Homo sapiens: one gene and its partners. The protein of the gene in region 2 interacts with the protein of the main gene of each other region in a pairwise test. Each region holds a gene or a part of one and is shown on either strand. Other genes may lie near its edges.

Region 1 (7,529 bases), on a different chromosome or scaffold from region 2:
TAGCTTGCCGTTCCCAAAGTCTTCCATTTCTAGTACTCAGTGCCCATGAACTCTCAAATGTCTTTTTAGTTCTAGTATCCAAATTCCTGAAGAGATATTTTCCATTTTTTTCTGTTTTGTTTTAACCTAATACTCGAATTTGTCATAATTAACTTTTCTAATATAAAACACCTTTATAAAGGGATTTCTCTGGGTCCTCAACAGAAAACTACTAGCGTGAGGAAAGAACTTTGGAGTAAGATTGAGATTAGTCCAAATTCTTGTTTCAAAACCTACCAGATGTATGATATTGGGCTTATTACTTAACCTTGCTTTGCTTCAGTTTTTTACCTGTAAAATGGAGTTATCTATAGCTACCATACATTATTGTTGTGAGGATTAAATGAGAAAATAAATGTAATTTTTTTTTTGAGATGGAGTCTCGCTCTGTCACGCAGGTTAGAGTGCAGTGGCGCGATCTCGGCTCACTGCAAACTCTGCCTCCTGGGTTCAAGCAATTCACCTGTCTCAGCCTCCCAAATAGCTGGGATTACAGGCTCCTGTCACCGTGCCCAGGTAAATTCTGTATTTTAGCAGAGACAGGCCACCATGTTGGCCAGGCTGGTCTCGAATTCCTGACCTCGTGATCCACCCACCCTGGCCTCCCAAAGTGCTGGGATCATAGGCGTGAGCCACCGCGCCCGGCCAATAAATGTAAATTTTTAAACACAATTCCAGCTCATAGTAGATGCTCTCCTCAAAGGATGTTGAATTTGATGATCTTATTGTCATGGGCTAAATTGTGTCTTCCCAAAATTCATATGTCAAAGCCCTAACCTTCAGTACCTCAGAATGGAAGCATATTTGGAGATAGGATATTTTAAAAGGTGATTAAGCCACAATGAGGCCATGAAGGTGGACTCTAACACAATCTGACTGGGAGCCTTATAAGAAGCGGAAATTTAGGCACATGGAGAAATCAACGAGGGATGTGAGCCCACAGAGAAAAGACCATGTAAGGCCACAGAGAGAAGGTGACTATCTGCAAGCCATTGAGAGAGCCTCAGAAGAAAATAAATCTGCCGATGCCTTGATCTTGGATTTCTAGCCTCCCAAACTGTGCTAAGTTCCTGTTTTTTAAGCTACCCAGTCTATGGTATTTTGTTATGGCAGTCCTGAAAGACTAATACACATACAATCACTATTTTAGGTGGAGAATTGACCCGCCACCTTTTTTTCTATTCTAGTTTCTATTTAATCTTCTAAATGGTATCAAATAATAAGGCACCGATTAAGAGCATGATCTTAGAAGTTAGACAGCTTTGAATTCGAAGACTGGATTATCCACCTAAGTGACCTTGGGTGAATTTCTTAAATATTTCTGAGCTCCAAATTTCCTCTTTCATAAAATGGGGACAATACCTATCTTATAGAGTTATAATAAGGATCAAGTTAAAAGAGTTGTATGTAAAGTTCATAGTACAATGTTTGACGTAGTGCTAAATAACTGGTAGAATTATTATTATCTCTATATACAATGGATTATTTACATATGGTTTTGTCAATTTTGCTTAGTTTTCTGTAACCCTAGCCAGTTAAATTTTCTTCTCTGTGTGAAGTGCCACACATGTACATACTTTCTACAATTATTTAATTATTTTGCAGGTGTGGAAAGGCAGCCTCTCTTAGCTTCATTGTTGGCTTGAGTCCAAAATCACGAACACTTAAAGTGAGTTGTAACATATTTTCAACACACATCCTAAAAATCCTTCTGATGTAGTAGATTTATTTAAATGCTTTGATGATTTTGCTCCATGGATCAAGCTGAAAGTATTTTTCTTTTTGCAGTTCTTCATACTTGTCATTTTAGGAAGAAATCAAGCCTTATTCAGAAGCTGTACCTCAGCCATTCCTCTCCACAAAGTATTCTTCCAGTTTGCAGTGAATGATAAGGGGTCATCATTATTATTACCCGATCCAACTCTGAAGTTTCTCACATTATTTATAAAATATATGCTGTGGTCTGGTCTCATTGCTGTTAATAGATGGTTTATAAAATAACATCTTATTGCTTTTTAATTAATCCAGGATGAAATTTACTTCCATAGATATTTCATTATGCTTCTCTCACCTAGTAAGATTTTTAGGCTATTGTTTCTGCTGTCTCCTCATACACACAATGTACTCTGCCTCTTGCTTAATTCTATCCTTTGCTCACAGTTTGTGAATTGGCATCACAATATCCTGTGTGCACAGGCTCTCTGAGACTGCAATTATGTTATGATTTTTACTTGCTGCCATTCATTCAAATTAATATTCACTGGGCACTTACTATGTAGAAGACATTATGCTATTCACTGTGGAGGAACACAGATATTTGAAATAATCCCAAATAGTCCACAATCTAAGCATCCTAATGATCATATTTTTTTAGGCTTCCAATATTTATTTGGAAACATGAATACATTTTGACTTGGCTTTTCTCCCACTTCCTATACCTATTTGTTGTCCCATCTAACTCAGGCAGTCCATTGAATTCTCTCCAGGGTCCTCAAGAAGGATCTCTGTCAATCTTTTGTGTACTTTTTTCCTCAGCTCTCCCCCAATTTTTAGAATAAAGACCATCATTTAGTTTGTGATAATATGGTGCTAGTGATGATCAGTTTAAGAGGTTTTGTTTGCAAACATTACATCTCACTTTGCTGAATTGGGGCTATTCTCCTTCTTCGCTCCCATCAAAATGTCAAACCACTACTTGCTATAGGCTTGCTTTCATTTATTAGAAAAATGAAAACTCAGCCACTTTATTATAACCCTCCTTGCCTCTGTTTTTAAAAAGAAAAGACAGACATAAAACAAGGAAAGCAAACTCTTTATCCTTAACTAGCGTCCATACTTTGAGGTGAGCAATGGGCCAGGAAGAAGAGAAGAAAAAAGGTGGAAAAGAGTAAAAAGATACCTGTTGTTAGGGACCCAATACAGAATTTGGAACCCTACCAAGATCTAGTTTGTGTCAGACATATCACTTATTTCCACCATTATTTTTACCCCTTTCAAACATTATGTAATTGGGTACCAACTCATATATCTTTAATAAAAAATATTAATAAACCAACTCTTCAGAACCCTTTACGTGCCTATTTTAAGTGAAATATTGTGCCTGGTGCTAAATAATCTAGGAGAAATATACAATTCCATGCTTGCCTTCAAGAAGGTTACTGTCTAGCTGTGGCAATGAGAGACTACCAGCAGTGTAGGGAGTCCCAAAAGGAGTGAAATAGTCATTCAGGACAGAAAGATTCAACGTTGAGCTGAGGATCTGAAAAACTGAGCTCTATTTCATCTTTACCATTTCTTTGCTATGTCCTTGGACAAGTCATCATCCTTCAAGTCTCCTGCTTCCTCCTTCCCACTCTCTCCCTTGATTGAGAGAAAAGAGAGAGAGAGAAGAGGAGAGGTGAAAAAGAAGAAAAAGAAGAAAAGAAAAAAAGAGGTCAAAGATTGTAAGATGTAAGACAATATTTGAAATGATCACTAATGAGTTCTGTTGTGATGCCCAAATTGAAGTCTCAGTTAGCTGTGACCCGCTGAACTGCCATTCATTTCGCAAAGACATCGGGGTCCAAATTTTCCCGAAGTCAATAGCAGGTGAGGGCTCAGAACCAAATCTATCCTGATACAGTTTTTTTTTCTGCACTGAATAATACATCTTTCAAAATGATTATTGTGACTCACAGAAATAGCTTAAAATATATTCTTGATACGGTTTACAGAGTGAGAAATATTTCTTTAAAGAAATTAAATATCTTTGTATATGTGAGGATGATGGGGAAGGAGTAATTCTACTTACTAGAGAGCAAGGTAAGCAATCAATTCCTTAGGCTCTAGAAGGCTATATATTCTGAAACTGTTGAAATACAATTCTCCTTGGCAGATACGAACCATTAAGCCATTATTGGTAACAGCAGGGGTTAATCACAGATACAAGTTGAGTGCAGGTAGCAGGAGAGTGATGGGAGCCAGATAGATGCTCCTGAAGACCGGGAAGAGGCTCGCAGAAGTGAAAAGGTGCAAAACACTTGCTCAGTTCACCATACTGTCCAGAGCCATACCTAAGGTAAGCAACGCTTCCCGCATCCTCAGACTCCAGGCGTCCAAATTCGCACGCTTGCAGGCATTCTATTGATTCACACTTGAGTCCTTCAACAGGTAGCGCCAATTACATCCCCCAGAGCACGACCCCCAGCATACTGGCCAATACCGCTGTCAATCAAATACCTCACCTACTTCTCTAAATTCCCCCCTCCCACTGTCATTGGCTTTACCTTCGGCCTATCCACAGATTTCTTCTGCCCTGGAGACCACAGAACTTACCCTATCGAATCTAGGATTGGCGCCGAAGCTACTCCCGCCCTTTGACGTCCCCGGGCACCCCGCCCCCTTCACCTCCCAGCTTTGCCGGGGAAGAAGCAGGGCGGGGCAAGCTAGGGGCCGGCCCGGGGGCGGGGCCTGCCTCCCACGGCGGGAGGGCGGAGCCTGCTCTGGAGCCTGACTGCTCGGTTAGGACCTCGGAGAGCGCCAGGCGCCGCGACCAGAGGGCCCAGAGAAGCGGCCGGAGCCCGCCTACCTCGGCCCCCTCAGCTTCCCGGGCTGGCAGGCGGCTAGAGGCGTCTGAGGAAGGTGCCTAAGTCCTGGGTCAGATAGTCATCCCTCTGGGACGCCGCCGCCGCTGCCGCCGTCCAGCTGTGGCTCCCTCGCACCTGTGTGTGTCTGTGTGAGTGTGTGTGTGTGTTTGAGAGAGAGAGAGACAGAGAGAGACAGAGACAGAGAGCGAGCGCACCAGCGCGCGAATGCCCGTGTGAGGGTGTTTGTGTGTGTTCTGGCTGGGAGCGCGAATGCCTCGGCGTGAGGTGTTTGTGTGTTCGCGCGCCCGCGGGCGGGCGAGAGCCCCGCGCCTCAGCGCTGGGCCTGGGGGAGGGACAGCGGGAGCGGCGGCTCTGCGCGCCCAGCAGGCTGAGGCGGGACTCGGGCCGCAGCCGTCGCCGCCACCGCTTCACGTCCCCCGAGAGCGGCTGCCGTGCAGCGGGGAGAGCGGACGGCGGGCGGGCGAACAGGCGGGAGAGCGCGGCGGCGGCTGCGGGCAGAGGTGGAGGGAGGGGAGCAGGAGATGGGGAGAGGGGGGAAAGAGGACGCGGGGAGGGAGATGAGGGGGAGGTGAGGGGGAGGCGGAGGGACAAGTGGAAACAGACGGTGTCGCCGTTCTCCTCCTCCCCCCCTCCCCGGCAGCTGTTGCTGTGGGTCACTCGCAGATGTTTTGGGGTCCGGGCTGCTGGGGGATGGGGACTAGAAAAAGTACCCCCCTCCCCGCCTTTCATAGTGACAAAAAAGGAAGCGTTGAAGCTGATGGGGGAAGAGCCCGGAAGGTGGTGGCAGAGTAAATACCGGCTCCCCCAACGTCGTTTTTCTGAAAATAAAATACTCTGAGCCGAACGTTTCGAAGAAGGAAAGTCCGCCCTTAAGAGAGAGACAGAGTCTTGGTCTGTTGAACTCTGGTTTGATTGTATAATAATGATGATATAATGCTAATGACGATGATGACACTGCCTTTTATTTTTACCCCAGTGCTGATAAAGCGTAGTTACAGCTGGGGATACAGTCCTTGAAAATCTGATGTGTGAGGAGGGAATACTGTTGCTTTTGGAGTTGTGTTATATTTATCTTTTTTTAAAAAGGATATGCTTTTTAGAATTAAAATTTGGCAAAACGAATCCTGACTCTTTTTTTCCAGTCGGTCGTAACCAATGCTCATAAAATGGGGACTGACTTGACTAATGAAAAGAGAAAGGCTTTTACCAAGGTCTAATTGCACGTGTTAAGTCACCTCTTTCCCTTTTTTTCCTTTGTATTTCTCAACAGTGTTTAAAATGAAGAAGTTTAATTTCCGAAAAGTTTTGGATGGCTTAACTGCCTCCTCCCCTGGCAGTGGTAGCAGCAGTGGCAGTAACAGTGGTGGTGGGGCTGGAAGTGGTTCCGTACATCCGGCGGGGACTGCAGGGGTTCTCAGAGAGGAAATTCAGGAAACTTTGACTTCGGAGTATTTCCAGATTTGCAAGGTAAGTTTTGAATTGGCTTAAAGCCTATTATTTCTTTATTATACTGTTGTAAGGAAACAAGGGGGGAAAAACATACCAGGAACAGGAAACTGTTGAGATGTCAGCATCAGAGTCTGCTGCAGAAAGCTCTGTGGGTAGATCAGTTTGGCTTAATAGATATTTTAGGCGTCAACTTAAAAAGCAATGATAGTTTAAGTGGGAAATGAGCACACACAAAAAGTAGAATTTGCAAGATAATGTTAAGATCCAATAGTGGACAAAATTTTTAATATTTGTGTATTATATTAACTGAAGAAGCAAATAGTCGTTTGGTTTTTTGTGTTATCAGAGAAAATATTGTTATTTCACTGTTCAGTATGAAATGAATAAAGCTACTAGCATGTTGCTAGGATTAAGTAGATAATAGGAAAATATGTTCATTTTAAGGGGGCCAATGACATTGCTTTAAAATTCCGAATAAAAACACCTTCACATTCTTAAACTCTTCATAAATACACAAACAGACAAATGCACAGGCTTATAAGAACTTGCAGTTGTAGGAACTCAAAAATAGCGGGTGTTCTGGTTTAGTAAGAAAACATTTTATGTAATTATACTTTGATATTGAACTTCTAATGAATATGCAAAAGAGAGTTTCTGGTAGGTAGAGAAGATGAGAGTTTATAAAACAAGCATTAGGTTAATGCATAGAGATATTGTTATTGCTATATTTGTTATATTTTATGACATAAAGTGATTTATAATTTTATTGCCCTTTTTTGAGTTGTCTTGGAATGTGCCTATTATATGCAACAAAGGCTACTAAGTTATTTATGTCATATAAATGAATATAGTTTTGTAAATGTGTTTGGCTACATAAGAAATAGAAAAATTGCAAAATTACAGAAATTAACAATTTTTAAAAATACTTTCACAAAAGAAAAGTTTTTTGAAATTATTAAAATTATATTTGTGGTAAACAAGTGATATATGTATAATGAGGTATATTTCAATCACTGTCTCAGCCTATATTCCTAGCAGGGTCATTATAAAAACATTAAATCTATAGTTATTAGTTTACATAAAAGCAAGTTTATTTAGAGTTAATTTAGATAAACAGATTTAATTCTAAGCTACTTTGTGAAATTTGTGTACAGTAATAATTTTTTTCCTCAATAGGAAATAACAGATATTCTGTTCGATGAGGGAAGGTCTTAACAGTGGTTATGAGACAAATGTAAAAGAGTCCTGGAGTTCAAATTTGAACTGCTAGGCAGGGGAATTATGCCCTGATTCTCTAATCTTTGATGTGTTTGCAATTTTCACGATCAGATTCTGAAAATTTTTTCCAAATTCTCTCAATTCATGTATATGACAGTGATACAGGAGAATTTTACCAGAGGTAAAACTGGTATAGGAAAGATAGACTTCTGAAACAGAATGGCATTGGGCTGTTGA
Region 2 (7,021 bases):
ATCAATTTGTTATACATTACAGCTAACATCCACACTAGGAACTACTCTAAACTGAAAATTCTTTTTGTACTTTAAGCTGATATCGGCAGAATCTGAATCTCCAAATGAACCTTCATCCAAAGCAAAGTCAAATCAAAGTCAAATTATATTGAAAGTAACTATCATCAGAGGTGGGAAAAAGATTTCTCTTCATTTGACAGGATCGAATGCTCTAAGTCAGTATTTTAAACAAATTCAACAACAAAAAAACATTATTTACACCAAATGAGAAAATGATAGCCTATGTGGTGATTATGAAAATGAAGTCATCTCAGTGTTTTACTCTGAAAATTAGGTTTACATTCTGTTTTTATATCACTACAATGAAAATTACCTTTTTTAAAAAATGTTTCATTTTTTTGAGACAGAGCTTTGCTCTCTTTGCCCAGGTTGGAGTGCAATGGCACGGTCTCAGCTCACTGCAACCTCCACCTCCTGGGTTCAAGTGATTCTCCTGTCTCAGCTTCCCAAGTAGCTGGGATTACAGGTGCCCACCACCATGCCGGGCTAATTTGTATATTTTTAGTAAACAGGGTTTCACCATGTTAGCGAGGCTGGTCTCGAACTCCTGACCTGAGGCGATCTGCCCACCCTGCCCTCCCAAAGTGCTGGAATTACAGGTGTGAGTCACCGTGTCCATCAACCTGACTTTAAAAAATAGCCACTGTACCATAACAGTAAAGTTCTAGACTAAAGTGAAAATGGATACTAAATATCAAAGGTATAATTTTCCTTTAACCATACCAGTTTCAGAATATGCAATGGTTAAGAGCATAGCTCTGAATTAAGACCGCCTATATGGCCAGGCATGGTGGTTCAAGTTTGTAACCCCAGCACTTTGGGAGGCCAAGGTGGGAGGATCACTTGAACCCAGGAGTTTGACACCAGCCTGGGCAACAAAGTGAGCCCGTCTCTACAAAAAATTAAAAAATTACTTGGACGTGGTGGTGCGTGCCTGTAGTCCTAGCTACTCGGAAGGTGGAGGTGGGGGGATCCCTTGAGTTCAAGGTTGCAGTGACCTATGACGGTACCACTGTACTACTGGCACATCCTGGGTGACAGAGCAAGACCCTTTCTCAAAACAACAAAAAACAAAAAACCACTGCTTATGCCTATGCTTGTCGTGGTCCCGCTACTTCCAAGCAAAGTGATCTTGAGTAAAAGGCTCCACTCCTCTATGCCTTAGTTTCTTTGCCTTAAAAATGAGAATAAGAGAATCTTCATATGGTTGTTGTGAGGATGAAATGAGATGATACGAAGCTAAATTTAGAACAATGGCACATAAAAGCACTCAATTAAAGATAGCTATTATTATCAAACTCAAGACCAAGAAAAATGTACTTAGCAGTAATAAAATCAATTAAGTACATATTGAATGCCAACTATATATGCATTGTTGTTCCAGGCACTGTGACTAAAGACAAATGTATAATGCATGGTCTCCACAAAACTAACAGTGATCTCTCTGCTTGGGGTGACAATATCAAAAAGCTTGAATTAATTAAAGAATATATAATATAAGTGCGTGCTAAACTGTGAGGGAAAATTGCTTGTATTATAAATTCAAAGGAAATACACCAAAATGAGAGCTAACATTTCTTAAGCACTTACTATGTAGCAGGGACTGTAGATGAATTATCTCATTTAATCATCACAACCCTATGAAATAGGTATTATTAACTCCATTTTAACAATAAGGAAACTGAGAAATAGGTAAAGCAATGTGTTTACACAGCTAGTAAGAAGCAGATCTAGGATTCAAATCCTGGCAATATGACTCCTGAGCCTGCCTACCTAACTATTAAACTATTGCAGGGCAAGGGATTCAACAAGTATTAATAATGTCACCACTGGGGCTGGTCGTGGTGGCTCACACCTATAATCCCAGCACTTTGGGAGGCTGCAGTGGGCAAATCGCCTGACGTCAGGAGTTCGAGACCAGCTTGGTCAACATGGTGAAACCCTGTCTCTACTAAAAATACAAAAATTAGCTGGGCGTGGTGGCATGAGCCTGTAATCCCAGCTACTCAGGAGGCTGAGGCATGAGAATTGCTTAACCCCGGGAGGCAGAGGTTGCAGTGAGCTGAGATTGCGCCACTGTACTCCAGCCTGAGTGACAGAGCAAGACTCCATCTCAAAATAATAAAAATAATAATAATGTCACCATTTATTGAACGCCTGCTATGTGCCAGGCAGGCAGTATACCAGACACTTTCAAACATCCCCCCTTTTTTTTTTTGAGACAGGGTCTCACTCTGTCACCCAGACTGGAGTGCAGTGACGTGATCTCGGCTCACTGCTACCTCTGCTTCCCAGGCTCAAGCGATCAGCGATTTGCCCATCTCAGCCTCCCAAGTAGCTGGGACTACAGGTGTGTGCCACCACACCCAGCTAATTTTTGTATTTTTGGTAGAGCCAGGGTTTCGCCAAGTTGCCCAGGCTGGTCTCAAATTTCTGAGCTCAAGAGATCCACTCGCCTCAGCCTCCCCAAGTGCTGGGATTACAGGTGTGAGCCACTGTGCCCAGCCTCAAACATCCCCTTTTAATAATTTCACTCATTTTATAAATGGGGTTACACACGGCAGGGAAAATAACCTGCTCGAGGTTAATACATGGAAGGGGAGGGATTCAGTCACAGATCTGCTGACCCCGGAGAGTCCATGATCTTTCTGACTTCACTTTGTCTTTCAAAAGCAAAGGAAGGCTGGGCGCCTGTAATCCCAGCACTCTGGGAGGGCAAGGCAGGCAGATCACCTGAGGTCAGGAGTTCAAGACCAGCCTGGCCAACATGGTGAAACCCTGTCTCTACTAAAAATACAAAAATTAGTCGGGCATGTGGTGCACGCCTGTAATCCCAGCTACTGGGGAGGCTGAGGCAGGAGAATTGCTTGAATCTGGGAGGCGGAAGTTGCAATGAGCCTGATCGCCCCACTGCACTCCAGCCTGGGAAACAGAGCAAGACTCCGTCTCAAAAAAAAAAAAAAAAAACAAGCAAAGAAAAACTTAATTGCTATCAGCAGGACTTATGCACAACTGAGAGGATTTGTATAATTTAGATAGCCAATGAGGTAGGGAGAGAAAAGATACTAAAAAAAGGAGGAACCAAAGGGCGGACGCAGTGACTCATGCTTGTAATCCCAGCACTTTGGGAGGCCAAGGCGGGCGGATCACCTGAGGTCAGGAGTTCAAGACTAGCCTGACCAACATGGAGAAACCCTGTGTCTACTAAAAATACAAAATTAGCCGGGCGTGGTGGTACACGCCTGTAATCCCAGCTACTCGGGAGGCTGAGGCTGGAGGATCGCTTGAACCTGGGAGGCAGAGGTTGTGGTGAGCCGAGATCGCACCACTGCATTGCAGCCTGGGCTGTTAACAACAGCGAAACTCTCTTTCTCTAAAAAAAAAAAGGAGGAACCAAATGAGCAAAATATAAACTGAAAGATAGAGTTGAGAAACATAAAGAAAATAGCCTTCCTAGCAAAGAGTAAGGAAGAGTAGAAAATATGGCTAATTTGGGTTAAGATCGCAGGGAGTGAAAGCAAGGTGAAATATTAAGATCTGATTCAGGCCAGGCACGGTGGCTCATGCCTGTAATCCCAGCACTTTCGGAGGCCGAGGCAGGTGGATCATCTGAGGTCAGGAGTTCGAGACCAGCCTGGCTAACATGGTGAAACCCTGTCTCTATAAAAATACAAAAATTAGCTGGGCGTGGTGGCAGGTCCTGTAATCCCAGCAACTCGGGAGGCTGAGGCAGGAGAACTGCTTGAACCCAGGAGGTGGATGTTACAGTGAGCCAAGATTGCGCCATGGCACTCCAGCCTGGGCGACAGAGTGAGACTTGGCTCAAAAAAAAACAAAAAAAAACAAAAACAAAAAAAACCATCTGATTCAATAGACAACAGAGAGCCACTTTAGGCTCTTGAGGAAGTGAGCAGTATAATAAAAACAGGACTTTAGACATAGTGCTGATAGCACCATCAGTATAAACTAGAATGGGGCAAGACCATAATCAGAGACACTATGAATATGCTGTTGAAATACAGATGTTGAGCTGATGAATACTTAAGAGGATAGCAAAGAAACATAAAAAATAAGGGGCAAACATGAAAATAACTTTGAAAGTGGAACCCCAAGGATTTCATAATAATCAATTTTAAATGTTCAACTCTTCTTGCTTTGGGAGACTGAGGTGGGAGGATGGTTTGAGGTCAGGAATTCAAGACCAGCCTGGGCAACACAGCGAGACCCCCGTCTCTAAAAAACTTTTACAACTTGCCAGGCGCAGTGGCATATGCCTGTAGTCCTAGCTATTTGGGAGACTCAAGTAAGAGGATCGCTAAAGCCCAAGAGTTTGAGGTTACAGTGGACTACGATTGCACACTGCATTCCAGCCTGGGTGACAGAGTGAGACCTCCACTCTTCTTATTTTGTTAGTAAACAAGATCACATCAATTAGCAACATAAAGAACAGAAATGCTGTTCTTTTTTTTTTTTTTTTCCTGAGATGGAATCTCGCTCTGTTGCCCAGGCTGGAGTGCAGTGGAGCGATCTTGGTCTTGGTTTACTGCAACCTGCACCTCCCCAGTTCAGGCGATTCTCCTACCTCAGCCTCCCGAGCAGCTAGGACTACAGTCGCCTGCCATCACACCCGGCTTACTTTTTGATTTTTAGTAGAGGCAGGGTTTCGCCATGTTGGCCAGGCTGGTCTCGAATGCCTGACCTCAGGTGATCCGATCGCCTCGGCCTCCCAAAGTGCTGGGATTACAGGCGTGAGACACCTCGCCCAGTCAGAAATGCTGTTCTTTAATCCCTTCAGAGTTAACTTTGAGGCTAATAGGTTTTCAGCTATATCTGCCTCAGCAATACTTGCCCAGACACTTTGTTCCACAGTAAGTCAAATATTTTTCTTCTGTACCCAACACATACTGATAATCACCACTTGTACCAGGCAGTCAACCTTAGCTGTACCTGTAACAACCCACGCAGTGAGCTGCCTTATCTCAGGCTGATGTGCTCAGCAATTCCAACCCCACATCTGTGGCTGAACAGTTTAGAAAAAAGAATAACTATGCTCTCAGACTTTTAATGGGTACAAGTCCTTGCAGGGCTGTATGGGTGTGTGGGTAATATATATGTCTGAGAGCTCATATTCTAAGGGTATATTTGGGTGTGCTGGCCTCTTGGAGAGGTTTGGGGATAGGCACTAGCTTGATAACTGAGTAGATGCAACGTCATCCCATCAATTTCAGATTTCCCATTTCTCACCAAACAATTCCAAAGGAAGAATTTCTTTCTTTTTTCTTTTTTTTTTGAGACTGAGTCTCGCTCTGTCATCCAGGCCAGAGTGCAGTGGCGCAATCTCGGCTCACCGCAACCTCCGCCTCCCGGATTCAAGCAATTCTCCTGCCTCAGCCTCCCAAGTAGCTGGGATTACAGGCGTGCACCATCACGCCTGGCTAATTTTTTTGTATTTTTAGTAAAGACAGGGTTTCACCATATTGGCCAGGCTGGTCTCAAACTCCTGACCTTGTGATCCGCCTGCCTCAGCCTCCCAAAGTGCTGGGATTACAGGCGTGAGTCACCGTGTCCGGCCTGGAAGAATCTCAACTCACACTGCCTAGGGTCATAGGATATGGTATGTACTACACAGTACAAGGGGAAAGAGGCAGGAAGAGTTCCAAAATGGTAGAAATGCCTCATTCATTCAAATCAATTTGATACAATTTATTATGCATCAAGATCCTATATAATGTGATCCCTGGTTACCTCTCTGGCCTCTTTTCCTATTCTGCCTCCCTTTTCTAACGGTACTCCAGCCAAACTAGCCTCCTTGCTCTTCTTTGAACACATCAAAGTCCTTGCTCTTGCCCTCTACCTAGAATGCCTTTCCCAGCTACTCACACAGCTCTTGCTCATTTCATTCACATGTCTACTCACTCAAATGTCAGCTCCTCAGAGATGCCTTCCTTGATCAACTAAAATAATGCACCCACCCTCCCTCTTCCCTGACTCTCTACCCACTTACCCTGCTTTTTCTTCATAGCATTTATTATTACTTGACATTATTTATATGTGTATGTACGTATGTGTGTATACATACTCCCCCCGCACACAGAAACACACATATACACACAATCAGGGGAGGGATTTTATCTCTTGTTCTGCTTCACCCCAGCACACAGCAGGTGCTCCAGGAATATTTGTTGCATAGTGGATCAATGAATCTTTCATATGTTTGGGACTGAGATAAGTACTGGAAATATAAAGATGAATAAGTCATGTCCCTTGACTCAAAGGAGCTAACAATCTGGCAGAGGAGATGAACACACCACGAGAAGAGAAAGCACCACGGCTTCAGGTATTTCCCCCACAGAGTGTCCTCTGGAGAGTGAAAAAACAAGTTATTTGCATACTTGTAAACCTGAAGTGTTAACTGCTATAGCACTGTTATTGATTTATTTATTTTTAATTTATTTATTTAGAGACAAAGTATTGATCTGCCACCCAGGCTGCAGTACAGTGGCATAATCACAGCTCACTGCAGCCTCCAACTCCTGGGCTCAAGAGATTCTCCAGCCTCAGCCTCCTGAGTAGCTAGGACTACAGGCACATGCTACCATGTCTGGCTAATTTTTAACTTTTTTTTTGTAGAGATGGGGTCTCACTATGTTGTCCAGGCTAGTGTCAAACTCCTGGCCTCAAGTAATCCTCCCTCTTTGGCCTCCTAAAGTGCTGGGATTACAGGTGTGAGCCACTGAGCACAGCCCAGAACTGTAATATTAATAAAAAGTAATAAAAAGACAAATTGCTGGTCATAAGAGACCTAGTTTCAAATTCAGATATTGTCATTTGTTAGCAGGGCAACTATTTAACCTTTCTTAGTTTGTTTCCTAATACATAACATGGAAATGATACTGGTGCTTCAGAGTTGTTATAAAATAAGATAATGTATGTAAAGCACTTTTCATACTGCCTGGAACAC
Region 3 (7,678 bases), on a different chromosome or scaffold from region 2:
TCTTTTTCTTTCCTTTTTTTTTTCTTTTTTTAATTAAGACGGACTCTTGCTCTGTTGCCAAGGCTGGAGTGCAGTGGTGCAATCTTGGCTCACTGCAATCTCCACCTCCCGTGTTCAAGCAATTCTCCTGCCTCAGCCTCCTGAGTAGTTGGGACTACAGGCGCGTGCCACCATGCCCGGCTAATTTCTTGTATTTTTAGGAGAGATGGGGTTTTACTGTGTTAGCCAGGATGGTCTCGATCTCCTGACCTTGTGATTCACCCGCCTTGGCCTCCCAAAGTGCTGGGATTACAGGCATGAGCCGCTGCACTGGCCTAGTTTTGGAGTTATGGAATCCAACCTTGCCTTGAGCAAGGGAAGGGTGTTTTTAGAGGACCAATAGGTAGTTTGCCCAGGCATCAGAGAGGACATAATATCTGATCTGAGATCTGAATGAGGAGTAGAAGTTGGCCAAGAGGGCAAACAAGGACTCCAAACAGAGGGACTGGCATGGACAAGGCCGGGTGAGGGTACATAGCTTATCTGATAAATTGTTTAGGGTTCATGTGGCAAGAGATGATTCAGGGGCTAGGAACTGAAGTCTCTGTGGCTAGCTAAGGGAGTCTGGGTTTGTCTTGGAACCATGGGACACACTGAATGATTTAATTCAGGGAAAAACTCAACTAGAACCATGGTCTCTGGGAAAGCAACAATTTCTAGTATGTGGCAGAAATTGCTCGATATTCATAAAATGCCTTTCTTTTTCCTCCTGGGCACAGGGCTAGACTACAATTCCCAGGCTCGATTGCAGTCAGGTGAAGCCACGTGACTGAGTTTGAGCCCATCAAATATAGGTGAGAGGGATATATGGTATTTCTAGGCCTAGCCCATAATAATTTCCTGCACAGCCCTCCACATTCTCTTTTTCCCATTTTGCTGGAGAAGATCTGAGGACCTAGATGGGGCAGCTCCAAGATGGAAGTGGCCTGGATCCCTGAGTCACCATTTGGAGACGAGCCTGTCATGGACTATTATGTGAGCAAAGAATCCATTTTTTGGGGGGTGGGGGGGTGGGATGGAGTGTCGCTCTGTGGCCCAGGCTGGAGTGCTGTGGTGTGATCTCGGCTCGCTGCAACCTCCGTCTTCCAGGTTCAAGCGATTCTCCTGCCTCAGCCTCCTGAGTAGCTGGGATTACAGGCGTGTGCCACCATGCCCAGCTAATTTTTGTATTTTTGGTAGAGATGGGGTTTCACCATGTTGGTCAGGCTGGTCTTGAACTCCTGACCTTGTGATCTGCCCGCGTTGGCCTCCCAAAGTGCTGGGATTACAGGTGCGAGCCAGTGCATCCAGCTTAGTTTTTCTTTGTTCAAGGGACTAAGCAAGAACAGATGAAGGCATGGGTGAAAACAAGAGAGAATTATTCTGGAAGCAGTACTGGCAGGATTTGAGCAAATAATGAGGGGGATGGGGAAGCCTTGGGTCAGACTATCTTATGTTGCTATTTATAGGATGTGGAAGGAAGGGTCTAAGAAACATCTTGTATGATGTGCTGTGGGATATGGAGGAGGTAGAGAACAGGGCTAAAAATAACCTTCCTAGAGGTGCAGATATTTGGCAGAGACCCTGTATTCCTGGGCCTCTCGCTGACATGGGCTGTCAACAAACTGTCACGCTCTTCTCTAGATATGTCCACTTCTGTCCTGAAGCAGATATTTTTATGTACACAGCCATGGGTGAGTTCTTAACTTCTTTGTGCCTCGTTTTTATCATCTGAAGATGGTGATAATAAGTGATAGGACTTATCTCAAAGGGGTTTACGAATATATACCGAGTGTTTAGCATGGTGTTGGAGATGTAGTGAGTAGTTGAGAAATGTCAGAAATGAGCATTAAAATTCCGTTAGCTCTAGCTTGACTTCTCTATCAGTGCATACAAACACTCAAAGATAAAGCTATGAGACAGAGCAGGATTTTGCCTGTCTTGTTCACTGCTACATCTCCAGCCAGCTTAGAACAGTGACTGGCTTGCAGCAGCTATTTAAATGTTTGGTGAGTGAATGAATGAATAAGGAACTCATCTCATTTTCTTTCCTTCCTCCTTCCTTTCTCCCTTCCTTCCTCCCTCCCTTCCTTTCTTTCTTCCCTTCTTTCCAACCATCCATCCATCCATCCATCCATTCATCCATCCACCCACCCATCTATCCATCCATCCATCCATCCATCCATCCATCCACCCACCCACCCACCCAACCATCTATCTATCCATCCATCCATCCACCCATCCATCCATGCATCCACCCATCCATCCACTTATCCATCCATCCATCCATCCATCCATCCATCCATCCATCCATCTCTCTTAGAAAGGCAGTAGAGTGTAGTGGGTTAGCTCACAAGTATTTTTTTTCAATTGTGGCAAGATACACATAAAATAAAATATGCCATTTTAACCTTTTTTTTTTTGAGATGGAGTCTCATCCTCTCACCCAGGCTGGAGTGTAGTGGTGTGATCTCAGCTCACTACAACCTCTGCCCCCCAGGTTCAAGCGATTCTCCTGCCTCAGCTTCCCAAGTAGCTGGGATTACAGGCGTGCACCACCACACCCAGCCAATTTTTGTATTTTTAGTAGAGACAGGGTTTCACCATGTGGCCAGACTGGTGTCAAACTCCTAAAATCAAGTGATCCTCCTGCCTTGGTCTCCCAAAGTGCTGAGATTACAGGTGTGAGCCAAGCACACCCAGCATTTGGAACCATTTTTAAGTGTACATTTCAGTGACATTAAGTACTTCACATTGTTGTGCCACTGTATCATCCATCCCAAAACTTTCCTCCCAAACAGGAAATCTGTACCCGCTAAACACAAACTCTTCATTCTCCCTTCCCCTCGGGCCGTGGAAACCACCATTCTACTTCTGTCTCTATGAATTTGACTAGTCTAGGTACTTCATACAAGTGGAATCAGATACAGTATTTATCCTTTTGTGACAGCCCACAAGTTCTGTGATCATATAAGCTGTGTAATCTTGGGAAACTCAATCTTCCTGACACTCCACTTCCTCGTCTGTGAAATGGTTGTAATAATAGTACCTGCTTCACAGGGTGGCAGTGAGGTTTAAATGAGATAATAGAAGGCACTTAGCCCCAGTGCCTGGCACATAGAAAGTGCTCACTATTAGCTATTAGTTACAGCTAAGCATGTATTGTAAATTAGTGGACACTGGTATTGTGTGTCTAGCACTGTCCTGAGCACTTTACCCGTATTATCTCATTTAAACTTCCCAACGACCCTATGACATGGTGAAACCACTAACATCCACACCTAACAGATGAGAAAACAAAGGCCCAGAGAGGCCAAGTCATGTGCCCAAGGGTTACATAGCTAGTTTACAGCAGAGCTGGGATTGAACGCCAGGCAGCCTATTTCCAAAGTTCATGGGTCTTGCCGCTGCATTGCATTACCTCTTGCCAGTCTCTGCTGCCTCTGTCTGTGAAGGATCGTCATCTATACACTCAGTCCTGGCTCAGGCTGTCACGGTGACTGCAGGTGTTTGAAGCTGTGGGACTCATTGGAAAAATAATTGAAAATGGGATTGCTGTTTCTTTCTTTTCTTTTTTCTTTCTTTCTTTCTTTTTTTTTTTTTTTTTTTTAGACAGGGTCTCACTCTGAGGCTGAAGTGCAGTGGCGCGATCTTGGCTCACTGCAACCTCTGGGTCCTGGGTTCAAGTGATTCTCATGCCTCATCCTCCTGAGTAGCTGGGATTACAGGCAAACACCAACACGCCCTCTCTTTCTTTCTCCTTCCTTCCTTCTTTTCTTTCTTTTTCTTTTTTCTTTCTTTCTTTCTTTCTTTCTTTCTTTCTTTCTTTCTTTCTTTCTTTCCTTCCTTCTTTTCTTTCTTTCTTTTTCTTTCTTTTTCTTTCTTTCTTTCTTTCTTTCTTTCTTTCTTTCTTTCTTTCTTTCTTTCTTTTTCTTTCTTTCTTTCTTTCTTTCTTTCTTTCTTTCTTTCTTTCTTTCTTTCTTTCTTTTCTTTCCTTTCTTTCTTTCTCTGTCTTTCTTTCTTCTTTCTCTTTCCTTTTTTTTTTTTTTCAGAGCCTTGCTCTGTTGCCCAGGCTGGAGTGCAGTTGCACAATCTTGGCTCTGCGCAATCTTCGTCTCCCAGGTTCAAATGATTTTCCTGCCTTAGCCCCCCAAGTAGCTGGGATTACAGGCGTGCACCACCACGCCCGGCTGAGTTTTGTATTTTTAGTAGAGACGGGGTTTCACCGTGTTAGCCAGGATGGTCTCAATCTCCTGACCTCGTGATCCACCTGCCTCGGCCTCCCAAAGTGCTGGGATTACAGGCGTGAGCCACTGCACCTGGCTGTTTGCTGTTTCTTAACATGTGAGGTTCCAACCCAGTGGGGCCCACTAACATGTGCTGTTCTGCTTTGGACCGTGGGGAGCTGGGGTGCTGGACCCATCTCCCACCTTCTACAGCCTGGAGTGTGCTCCCAGATGACACAGCCAAGCTGGCGTGTTTTTCCCTCACTGGCGGAAAGTTCAGCAATCCCTGACTCCCTCACCCTGCCCTGTTGAGATTTAAAAAAATTTCCTCTTCTGGGCCTCAGAGCCGCCTCCTACCTGAGGTTTATTGCTTTCTCTGCACCAGCATTGAGCCTCTGCAGCCCTTTAAAAGGGGCAGAGCCCATAGTGTGATCAGCAGGTCCTGTCCCTAGGAGATAAGAGTATCTTGCACAGCAGGTGCAGGTTTCCCAGCAGCTCAGGCAAGAGTCCGATGTTTGTGCCATCTGATCCTGATGTCTGGAGAGGTGAGCCCTCTGTCGGCATCTTCCTCTCCAGGCTGGCAGAGCAAGGGGGGCTGTGAATTAATTCAAGGTTGGGGGTCGGGGCCTTCTATATCTGGACTTGCCTCCCACCCGTGTCCTCTGTCCCTTTTTCCCTACGGCAGATAGCCATGTGTGAGCCTGAATTTGGCAATGACAAGGCCAGGGAGCCGAGCGTGGGTGGCAGGTGGCGAGTGTCCTGGTACGAACGGTTTGTGCAGCCATGTCTGGTCGAACTGCTGGGCTCTGCTCTCTTCATCTTCATCGGGTGCCTGTCGGTCATTGAGAATGGGACGGACACTGGGCTGCTGCAGCCGGCCCTGGCCCACGGGCTGGCTTTGGGGCTCGTGATTGCCACGCTGGGGAATATCAGGTGAGACCAGCTCTGAGGATTCAGCCTGATGCTGACTTGGGGCACTGGGTGTGGAAAGCAAAGGCGTTGTCAAGGACCCCTGGGCGCATACGTATTCGGGATTTCAAGGAGCGCTCTGGATAACTATGGGGTTGGGAGTCAGACTGGGGTCAACTCCAGACCCCGCAGCCTGTGAGCTTGTGACTTTGAGCAAGTCATTCTCTTTTTGAGTAGCTGGATCACAGGCATGCGCCGCAGCACCCAACTAATTTTTAAATTTTGTTGTAGAGATGGGGTCTCACTATGTTGCCCAGGCTAGTCTTGAACTCCTGGTCTCAAGCGATCCTCCTGCCTTGGCTTCCCAAAGTTTTGGGATTACAGGCATGAGACACCATGCCTGGCTGGCAAGTTACTCTCTAAACCCAAAGTTCCCCGCCTATAAAATGGGAATAGTAGCTTTTAAATGTTTTTTTTTTCAAGCCAACATATCTATATTGCTAACCATGTACCAGGCACTAGTCTAATTACTTTATAGATATTAGTTATTTAATCCTCACAAAAGCCTTGTGGGGTAGGTCCTGTTATTAGCCCCATTGTACAGCTGCAAAAGTGAAAGGCCATGTAATCTGTCCAAGCTTAGAGGGCCAGAAAGTGGCAGAGGCGGGAGTCAAGAACAAGCTGTCTGGCTCCAGCGCTCAAATCCAAGTGCCTCATGCGGAAGTCATGAGAATTAAATGAAGTAGAGCGCCTGGCACACACCAAACATACAACAGGCATTGGTTGCTGTGTTATTGTTACCACTAGAAGGGGGTTTTAGGGAAAGCAGAAATGCATAGAAGACCTGAGCCAGGTTTTCCCACCTGGGTATGCAGAGATCTGCAGTGGTCCTGGCTTGTCAAGAGGTGATCAAGAAGGAGGGGCAGGGAAAGGGACAGGCTTCTCTGGCTTAGCTCTCGTCTGGGTAGAGGCTCAATGGGGAGGTCTGTGGACATGGCTGCTGGTTCCCAGGAGAGCCAGCCATCACGACGAAGATCTTGAGTGGGGTGCCTGGCAGGGTGATCTGGGACATGGTTGGTCTGTATTAAATCTCACTCAAAAAATAGATCTGAATGAGGAAACAGAAATACTATTTCTGAGAAAACCAGAATGGAAAAGAGCTTTAACATCTCTTTAGGCCGGGTGCAGTGGCTCACGCCTGTAATCCCAGCACTTTGGGAGGCTGAGGCGGGTGGATCACCTGAGGTCAGGAGTTGGAGAGCAGCCTGGCCAACAGGGTGAAACCCTGTCTCTACTAAAGATACAAAAATTAGCTGGGCGTGGGGGCAGGCACCTGTGGTCCCAGCTACTTCGGAGGCTGAGGCAGGAGAATTGCTTGAACTGGGAGGGAGAGGTTGCAGTGAGCCGAGATTGTGCCACTGCACTCCAGCCTGGGCAACAGAGTGAGACTCCATCTCCAAAAAACAAACAAACAAACAAACAAACAAAAAACAAACCACATCTCTTTAGACGTCCAAGGGAGGCTGCAAGTGAAACAAAAAGTACATGATCTTCCCTTTGGACGGATCTGAGATTGAAGGCAACCTTTATCACTTCTTAGCAGGGTGACCACAGCAAGTTGCTGAAGCCTCTGTGTGCAGTGGTATAAATATGAGTAATAATAATAGCTGATGTTTTTTGAATGCTAACTACATAGATACTACTATGGGCTGTACAAATATTAATTCTTAATATCTTTGCAATAGCTTTATCAGGCAGAGATCATTGAGGCACAGAGAGGTTATGTAACTTTGCCAATGCCACACAGCTCTTCAGTGGCAGAGTTGAGCTTTGAACCCAGGCCAGCTGGCTGGAAAGACCATCTCTTTGGCACTGCAAATACTGCCTCTCTGTTTGGCTTTTTTGACAAATATTTATTCAGCACCTATTGCGTGCCAGACACTGACTTTGAGGTTGTTCACTGGATCCAGGATAAGCTATGTATGTAAGTTATAAGCACCCAGCACAGCCCCTGGCACACAGTAAGTGTCAGAGAAATATATGCTGAGTGAACAATGAATGAATGAATGAATGTGTCTTGATTGTTTTATTGCTAATGAGTGTAAACCAGGAAATGTGTGGTTTTCGTCACCTGGCCCTCCTGATAGAGCCATGCTCTGGGTGACAGTTTCTCTCCCCTTTGGGGCTCCCCTGGGAAGCCGCCTCACCCTGACTTCATCTGTGTATCTCAGCAGAGCCCAGGCTAAGCTACTTGAGGCCAAGTAGGCCTGGCTGCCCCTCTTCCCAACCTGTGGAGTCTGAGCACTGGCTGGTGCTTTCAAACCATGCATGGAGGTCAGGCGCAGTGGCTCACGCCTGTAATCCCAGCACTTTGGGAGGCCGAGGCAGGTGAATCACCTGAGGTCAGGAGTTCGAGACCAACCTGGCCAACATGGTGAAACCCCGTCTCTACCAAAAATACAAAAATTAGCCGGGCGTGGTGGCAGCCCCGTTATCCCATCTACTTGGGAGGCTGAAGCAGAAGA

What was found.
Region 1: the proteins of STX12 (region 2) and STXBP5L interact in binary tests that used the Homo sapiens proteins (3 or more experiments, as listed by UniProt).
Region 3: the proteins of STX12 (region 2) and AQP8 interact in binary tests that used the Homo sapiens proteins (3 or more experiments, as listed by UniProt).

Annotation. Positions count from the first base shown.
Region 1 is NC_000003.12:120,903,676-120,911,204, forward strand, and holds the start of STXBP5L (syntaxin-binding protein 5-like), read left to right. Parts: upstream 1-4,529; 5' UTR 4,530-4,659; intron 4,660-5,001; exon of another isoform or gene 5,002-5,516; intron 5,517-5,895; 5' UTR 5,896-5,903; coding exon 5,904-6,092; intron 6,093-7,529. UniProt on the Homo sapiens protein: Plays a role in vesicle trafficking and exocytosis inhibition.
Region 2 is NC_000001.11:27,776,216-27,783,236, reverse strand, and holds part of STX12 (syntaxin-12), read right to left. Parts: intron 1-7,021. UniProt on the Homo sapiens protein: SNARE promoting fusion of transport vesicles with target membranes. Together with SNARE STX6, promotes movement of vesicles from endosomes to the cell membrane, and may therefore function in the endocytic recycling pathway.
Region 3 is NC_000016.10:25,212,269-25,219,946, forward strand, and holds the start of AQP8 (aquaporin-8), read left to right. Parts: upstream 1-4,678; 5' UTR 4,679-4,777; coding exon 4,778-4,789; intron 4,790-4,926; coding exon of another isoform or gene 4,927-4,929; coding exon 4,930-5,177; intron 5,178-7,678.